Homo sapiens: one gene and its partner. The protein of the gene in region 1 purifies or fractionates together with the protein of each later gene. This does not show direct contact. Each region holds a gene or a part of one and is shown in the gene's direction. Other genes may lie near its edges.

What was found.
Region 2: the proteins of UBE2Q2 (region 1) and LETM1 purify together in Homo sapiens (affinity purification with mass spectrometry; one large-scale study listed by BioGRID and IntAct). This does not show direct contact.

The regions. Positions count from the first base shown.
Region 1 is NC_000015.10:75,846,175-75,849,965, forward strand, and holds part of UBE2Q2 (ubiquitin-conjugating enzyme E2 Q2), read left to right. Parts: intron 1-3,791.
Region 2 is NC_000004.12:1,821,408-1,825,198, reverse strand, and holds part of LETM1 (mitochondrial proton/calcium exchanger protein precursor), read left to right. Parts: intron 1-1,423; coding exon 1,424-1,555; intron 1,556-2,067; coding exon 2,068-2,211; intron 2,212-2,886; coding exon 2,887-3,018; intron 3,019-3,791. UniProt on the Homo sapiens protein: Plays an important role in maintenance of mitochondrial morphology and in mediating either calcium or potassium/proton antiport. Mediates proton-dependent calcium efflux from mitochondrion.

The DNA.
Region 1 (3,791 bases):
GACAGATCACTTCATCTGTAAATATTTCTGCTTGTATCTTTTGAAGGTAAAAGACTCTTTTATTTTTTATTATTATTTTTTGAGACGGAGTCTCGCTGTGTCGTCCCAGCTGGAGTGCAGTGGTGTGACCTGGGCCCACTGCAACCTCCGCCTCCCAGGTTCAAGCAATTCTGCTGCCACCGCCTCCCGAGTAGCTGGGATTACAGGTTTCCGCCGCCACACCCGGCTAATTTTTGTGTTTTTAGTAGAGACGGGGTTTCACCATGTTGGCCAGGCTGGTCTTGAACTCCACCTCAAGCTCCCAAAGTGCTGGGATTACAGGAGTGAGCCACCGTTCCTGGCCGTAAAGACTCTTTTAAACATGGATGACTGTTTTGATAAAATGACATGGCTTGTTCATGTCGATACCATTTGCTTAGAAGGGAAAGATCAAGGGAAAAATGGGGTTGGATTTCAAATGATTTGGTTTGATCGATGATTTGTTATTCTCTAAAGTTGTAACTCTGGAAAAGGTAATGAGTTTGACTTATTCTTTAACTTTTCCTCTTTAGACAGTTCAAATATTTGAATTCTACATGCTAGGACTTGTTTTCTTTATACTTACCAAGAAACATCCTTATGCAGTTTCTCTAATGTTTGAGAAACTAAGTTGTTTTTTACACACGTGCATGCTAGTTCCTGAAGAGTCCTGTACAGGTGCTCTGCTGGCTTTTCCTTTCAGGTTTCTGTATCAGCTGTATTTCTCCCTGTAGAATGTGCCCCTGACCTCCACCCCTTAACCTTACCCCATTTGTCTTTATATGCCTGACCATCCGTCAAGGCTCTTCTGGGTCATATTTAGTTCATGCTGTTATTTCCCCTTCCTCCCTTCTTTAGTCCTTACTATTTTTGCTTTGGTCATGTTTTCTTATGCTGTATTCTGTAAGCCTTTAAATTTTTCTTTTTATGGTGGCAGGGGAGAATATTTTATAATTATGCTTTGTGCTTTTTATCTTCCACTCAATAAATGCTTCATAAATATTTGAGTATATAGCGCTATTCTAGCTGTATTGTATTTGAACAAAAATCTTAACTGCCTTGTAAGTTAACTGCTAAGAATTTGTCAAAAGTGCAGAGATAACATCAATAACTTGTCATGGATAGTACAAAAAGGTCTCTAAGGGCTTGATGGAAGTCTGTAAATTGACTTCATATGAGAGTGTAAGAAGTGAAAAAGACCAAAACAGAGTAGATGTTTTACTCTGTAGGCCAAGGGAATTGAGCTAATTCTTTTCCTGTTTTATAAATTTGTCCTGATCTTAAATAATGAAGGGAAAAGAGTGCTCTTTTTCAACCTCGAGTCCTTTTTATTCTTTTCTGTGAAGCCATGATATGAAAGATTGCCTGTTATACAAACTTAAGTATAGTTTTTCCATCTTCAGTAAACTAACCTGATTGCCGTCTAATTAGTTGTTACAATCACACCGAAATGCAAAGCAGCTTGTTTTAAGCAGCCTTATTGGGAGCTAGTATATGGCTTTAGTCGTTTTGAAGTATTTAACATAACTTGGCAACTCCATTACTCCTTTTATGGACTTTTTGGCATCTGGGCATTCTTGGTAGGAAATCACTGTTTTAGAATGAAAAATCTCCCCCAGGAAGTAAATTAGCTAGTAAACAAATGAAACTTCATTTTTTATATTACTTGTAGAGCATAAATGATTACCCTTTCTGCGTATAAGTGGCTGTTTGCTAGGCTGCTTTTAGTGGGACTTTGTTTTTGATTGGTTAATTAAATTTCTATTCATTATTGCCAAAAAGTGCCTACCCCCAACAGCAAGATACTAAATTTTAAAAATGTTGGAGCTGTGAATCTAGGAGGAAGTGAGAAGTTTAGCTTTTATTTAGTAGTTAGGAGCTTAAGTAAGTCACTTCTTTTACTGTGTTTCTGTGTACTATAGATAATATTTTTTTGCACTGCAAGAGAGCATATAGAGGAAAGCTCTTTGGCAATGATATTATGTTCTACAAATATAAAAGCGATGGTGTCATTTGTGGCTGAATAACACTTTATTTTGAAAATGCTTTATAACAGGTTTTTGTGGGAAATAAAGCAATGCTGTTAACTTCATCTTGCATTTTTCTAGTCTTTACTATGATTAAAAAGTAGTCCAGTCAAAGTTGTACAAAGGAAATAAACCTGGACTAAGGAGCCTAAGACTTTTCTCTTTGGTTTGCCCTCCTGGGACAGATTACCTTTCCAAATTGAATTCATGGAAGAGCATTTGGAAATATCAGAACTGTCATGTTAAGCACCTAAGTGGTACTTTCATTCCAGAAGAATCATTGTTTTCGTTTATCTGACCAATTTATAATATAGGGTCAAATTCCTGGTGGTTATTTATGCTCCCTCATCCCCATTTTTATACCTGTCCTTGAAAGGAACAGATATATGAAGAGAAGACTTAGGTTTCCCTTTTGTGAATAGTATATCCCTTAGTATCTTGATTTTTTTTTTTTAATTTGGTTAAACATATTTAGACCTGGAAAAGGGTAGTATTTGATAAATGTCAGCTAGTTGAGGGGTGGGGAATTGAGTTGAATGGAGATAGTCACTGCCAAATGTCAAGCATGACTGGAGAGCCAGAGTGATAAAGCAGGGGTCCCTTTTTCCAGATCCTTTGTAACAGTGTTATGTGATCTCTTCTAGAAGATTCTGAAAGATAATCCCAACTTGGAACCTAGGAAACCACCCAGTGGGTTTCTGCAGCTTAGGTGGTTCAGATCCTCATCAGCACCTTTTTCTGTGCCTCAGTTTGCTTACAATGATGTTCTCAGTAGCTGTAATTTGCTGCTTGTGTTTGAATACTTAAGCATTTTCTTTTTATCATGGGTATATGAACATTTTTATTTCAACAAGTGTTAGAATTTTTACTCTGCTTTTGTGGGCTCTAGGTTAGCTACTTGGTTGTTTATTTGTAAAATGATTAGCAGGGAACCATGTGTATGCATTTTAAGTATCTTTTGTTGTCAGAGCAGTTAGAATTTTATTAAGGTACTATATGCTAATTCTGTCAATTTACTTCGTTCTCCACCCCACATTTATTGAACAGCAAACTATGAAAGTAATGTGTCCCATAACTGGCCTTCAGAAGAATTACAACTGCTGTTATCTCTGAACCTTCCAGAAGTTTGTGCATCAGTTTTAAAAAAATGATGAAATCCCTGAAGATAGCTGTGTCCTACATTTGGAAAGATACAAAAACTGACCATTCTGGTCAACCAGTTTTGGTTGCTGGTGCTTGAGATAGAGCCACACAATGGTCTCAGTGGATTTATGGAGAAAAATAGATACAGAAAGTTACTTCTAAATAAGACAAAAAAATCTTTTTCTTGAGCAGTGACAGGTAAAGAGGTTGGTTTGGTTAATCTTGAGTTGTGTTTCCCTCCATTAAGACAGTTTTATGGTGGGGATGGTAGTGGTGATGAACTTGTTTGAAATTTGTCCACTTACAGTAATGTTTATGGTAGCTTCACAGACAACTTCATTCTCACAGGCCTTAGAATTACTATAAAACTAATAGAATGGATGAGGAACAAAGGACCTGAGTAATTAGATGCTTAGATAATTGTTCTGTGTTTTCATAACTGTGGTGAAAAAGAGTGGTGCTAGAAGCACTTAAACATTCTATGTACGGGAAAACTGCCTGAATTTGTATTGGGATTTTTGAGCACCATTCACTGTTTAAAAACTGATATACCATAGGTCATATTTATTTTAAAGAGAAATAGTAGGCAAACTTATCTTTTCA
Region 2 (3,791 bases), on another chromosome or scaffold:
GGAAGGTTTGGGTGGCATGGCACGGTCTGACTTTGGAGCCGCCCCTTCTCTTGGCCACGCCCTGTGCTGGTGCCTGGTTCCCAATGCCATCAAATTGAGTGGCTTGTAGGTCGGAAAGTGACAGCCCCAGCCACTCACTCTTACATGGAAAGGTTAAGGGGTGCAGGGCTCCAGCCGGTTTCCTCCCGGTGCCCTGGCACTGGCATGCCCTTGTTGGCAGTCATCCTCCTCCCGGGTTTTTCACACAACCTGCAAGTGTAGATGAAGGTGTGTGTACACACTTCTCCTCTCGACACAGACAGTATTTATGGCGTGATCCTGTGGCACCCCCTGCCTTCCACAGCCGCGTCTTCCATCGGATTCCCCAGCAGAGCCTTCTCTGTGTCTGGCATGGGTGCTGACCTCCCTAGCACTCTGCCCAGCCTTCTGGAGCTCCGTGGGGATATGGGCCACACACACAGGGGTGTCTGAGCAGGGGGGCAGGTGCTGTCCCTGCCCAGGCCCCTCGGCCCCCAGGGGAGTGTGGCGCATTGGGGGCCCGAGTGTCATGTGTTCACACTTTTCCTTCTCTACCCACCTCTCGGTGGTGCCTTTCTTCTCTTAGGGTTTGTTCTCATATTTTCTCTACCCACTTCTCCTCAGCGTTGCCTTTCTTCTCTTAGGGTTTGTTCTCATGTTTTGCCCCGTGTTCAGTTTGTCTCTAAACATTGTCACGGTCTTTCTTGCCCATTTGGAGATTGTCTTGGTGTTACTCAAGCAGCCAGCCCCGGAACCTGGCCTGTGCAGAGCCTGCAAGGGCCCGAGTGCTGACCGGCCTCAGTGACACTGCCTCTGCGGGCCCGTATATGTTGACCTGGGCTGGTCTTGTTTCTTTGTTTGAGACAGAGTCTTGCTCTGTCACACAGGCTGGAGTGCAGTGGCGCGATTTCGGCTTGAAACAACCTCCGCCTCCCTGGTTCAAGCAATTCTTGTGCCTCAGCCACCCAAGTAGCTGGGACTACAGGTGCACACCACTATACCTGGCTAATTTTTGTATTTTTAGTAGAGATGGGATCGCCATGTTGGCCAGGCTGGTCTCGAACTTCTGACCTCAGGTGATCCGCCCACCTCGGCCTCCCAAAGTGCTGGGATTACAGGCGTGAGCCACCGCGCCCGGCCCCTGGGGTGTTTTTAAGTGAAGAGTTGGTGCCCTGTTCTGAGGCCCTTGGGGTCCTCGCTGTGGGGGTTGCTGACCCCCAAGCCTCTCTGGTGTTTTGTTTACTAACGCCGTCATCGGGTCACGCAGCACAGCAACAAACAGACCTTGTAGAACTTGAGACACTGTCTTCTCTGAGAGCTATTCTGGTGATGAGATGGGCGGACCTGCTGTGGGGCCAGCAGGGTTGGGGGGCTGCCCATCTGCTGAACCTGGCCTTGGTTGCAGTGGCTGGACCTGCACCTGCATCAGGAGATCCCCACATCGCTGCTCATCCTGTCCCGGGCCATGTACCTCCCGGACACCCTCTCTCCAGCCGACCAGCTCAAGTCCACACTGCAGACCCTCCCAGAGATTGTGGTACGTGCTGTCGGAGACCCCTTTTACCTCATCTCTTCATAGGTGGCTCCGCTCTTCTGGGGTGGGGGGAGGTGTGCAAGCGCACTCATTCCTCAACCATGGGCGAGGAGCCTGCCTCCCACCCCCTCGCGAGTGCCCCCACCCAGCCACCTGTCCCCTTCCTTCCATCCCTCCTCACCAGCCCCTTGCCTGCCATCCCCCGTGTGGCACAGTTGCCAGTGGTCCCGACCTGGCCACGTGTTGGCTGCTGTGGATCTGGGCCGCGGCCCTTGGAGCTGTGTCAGCAGCGCCTATGCTCCTTCCCACATGTCAGGAGTCATCGGGCGAGCGCAGAGGGCGGCCCAGGGGCCTCCCAGCAATTGCGGGCAGCACCTCGGCAGTGCCTTCTGTCCTGTGTGTGTGAAGCCCAGGTGGTGACGGGGCAGGGGACACAGGACACAGGACAGAGGTGAGGGGCAGCAGGGGCCTCTGGTGGCTTCTGGGCTCACCCACAGATGTACCCTCTTCTGAAGGCAAAGGAAGCACAGGTGAAAGTGGCCGAGGTGGAGGGCGAGCAGGTGGACAACAAGGCCAAGCTGGAGGCCACGCTGCAGGAGGAGGCGGCCATCCAGCAGGAGCACCGTGAGAAGGAGCTGCAGAAGCGCTCGGAGGTGGCGGTAAGCGGTGGTCCTGCTCCGTGCCGCGTGGGGCTGTCCTGAGCCAGCCTCCCTAGAAACCCCCGCACGCCCACAGTCTTGGCCTCCCGCATGCTTGCCCTGCAGCTCTGTCCTGCATGTTTATTTCCTCCTGGAGTGGTCAGGGAGGCAGGGTGCCCGGGTGTGAGGGCTGCAACTCTGACATGGGGACTCCCCGATGGCCACAGTGGTGCTCATGGGAGATATACCTTAGCCGTCTCAGAGGGGCAAGCTTAGCATATGGCAGTGCCCACCCTCTCCTCAGGGACTTGCTGTGAGGGGCGCTGGCAGAGGAGCTGCAGGCTCCCCCAGCCTCTGGGCTCCTCTTCAACGCGGGCCCTGTGGTCCTCTTGGGTCACATGCATGGTGCCCACCCACAGGCTCAGCCTCCTGCTCTGCAAGTGACAGGGCAGCTTGGGGGAGTCTTGGGGAGACCAGAGATGGATAAGGTGCTCTAGCCTGTTCTGGAGAGGGCCCCAGGTGACCTGGCAGCTGCATGGAGCCTCCCTAGGGACCTTCTGTGGCAGGTGTGCTGCCCAATGTCACCTGCAGGCCTGCTCCCAGTGTGGCCTCTGCCATATGTTCTGAGCTTCGGGGAGCAAGAAGACTGCTTCTGTGTGATGGCGGGCGCTGGGCTGGTGTCGCCTTGCCTTTCAGAAGGATTTTGAGCCCGAACGTGTGGTAGCTGCTCCCCAAAGGCCGGGGACCGAGCCACAGCCAGAAATGCCTGACACAGTCCTGCAGTCAGAGACCTTGAAGGACACTGCCCCGGTGCTGGAGGGCTTGAAGGTAATGAGGCAGGTTCTGGGGCCCTGGAGGCTGAGGAGGGCATGGCCTGGCTTTGTGGACAGTTGTGGGGCAGGGATGGGGACAGGTTAGCTGGGGCATCTATAGCCCTCAGTGAGAGGAGATGGTGCAAGGGGTTGAGGATGAGGCCACTGGGCCCCTAGGAGGCTTGGTGGTTAGGAAAAGAGTGAGTCCGGCCGGGCTCCGCACTGTGCCTGGGTGCACAGCAGCTGACGCTGCCGTGAACTTAGCACCCTGGCCCACAGTGTGGCAGGTAGAGATGCCAGTCGGCAGGTTTCAGGGCCCTTTGCCAGCTTGCCCAGACAGTGAAGGGGTGTGGAAGCCAATGTGGCCCCTCAAGGTAGAGCCTCCTCCACAGGCCCAACCTGCTGTCACCTCCTGTGGGGTGATCTGGGCTTGGAGCATCTTCAGACTCCCCATGCGAGCCTGTGAGGTGCAGCCTCCAGGCGCCTGTGCTGCCTACCTGGGGCGCCTCCTGGTACCTTCCATCTTGAACTCGCGGGCTGAAGTGCAGTGGCGCCATCTCGGCTCAGTGCAGTCTCAGCCTCCCAGGTTCAAGCAACTCTTCTGCCTCAGCCTCCCAATATCTGGGAGTACAGGCGTGCACCACCAGACCCAGCAAATTTTTGTATTTTTAGTAGACAGGGGGTTTCACCATGTTAGCCAGGCTGGTCTCAAACCCCTGACCTCAAGTGATCTTCCCGCCTCAGCCTCCCAAAGTGCTAGGATTACAGGTGTGAGCCACCACACCCAGC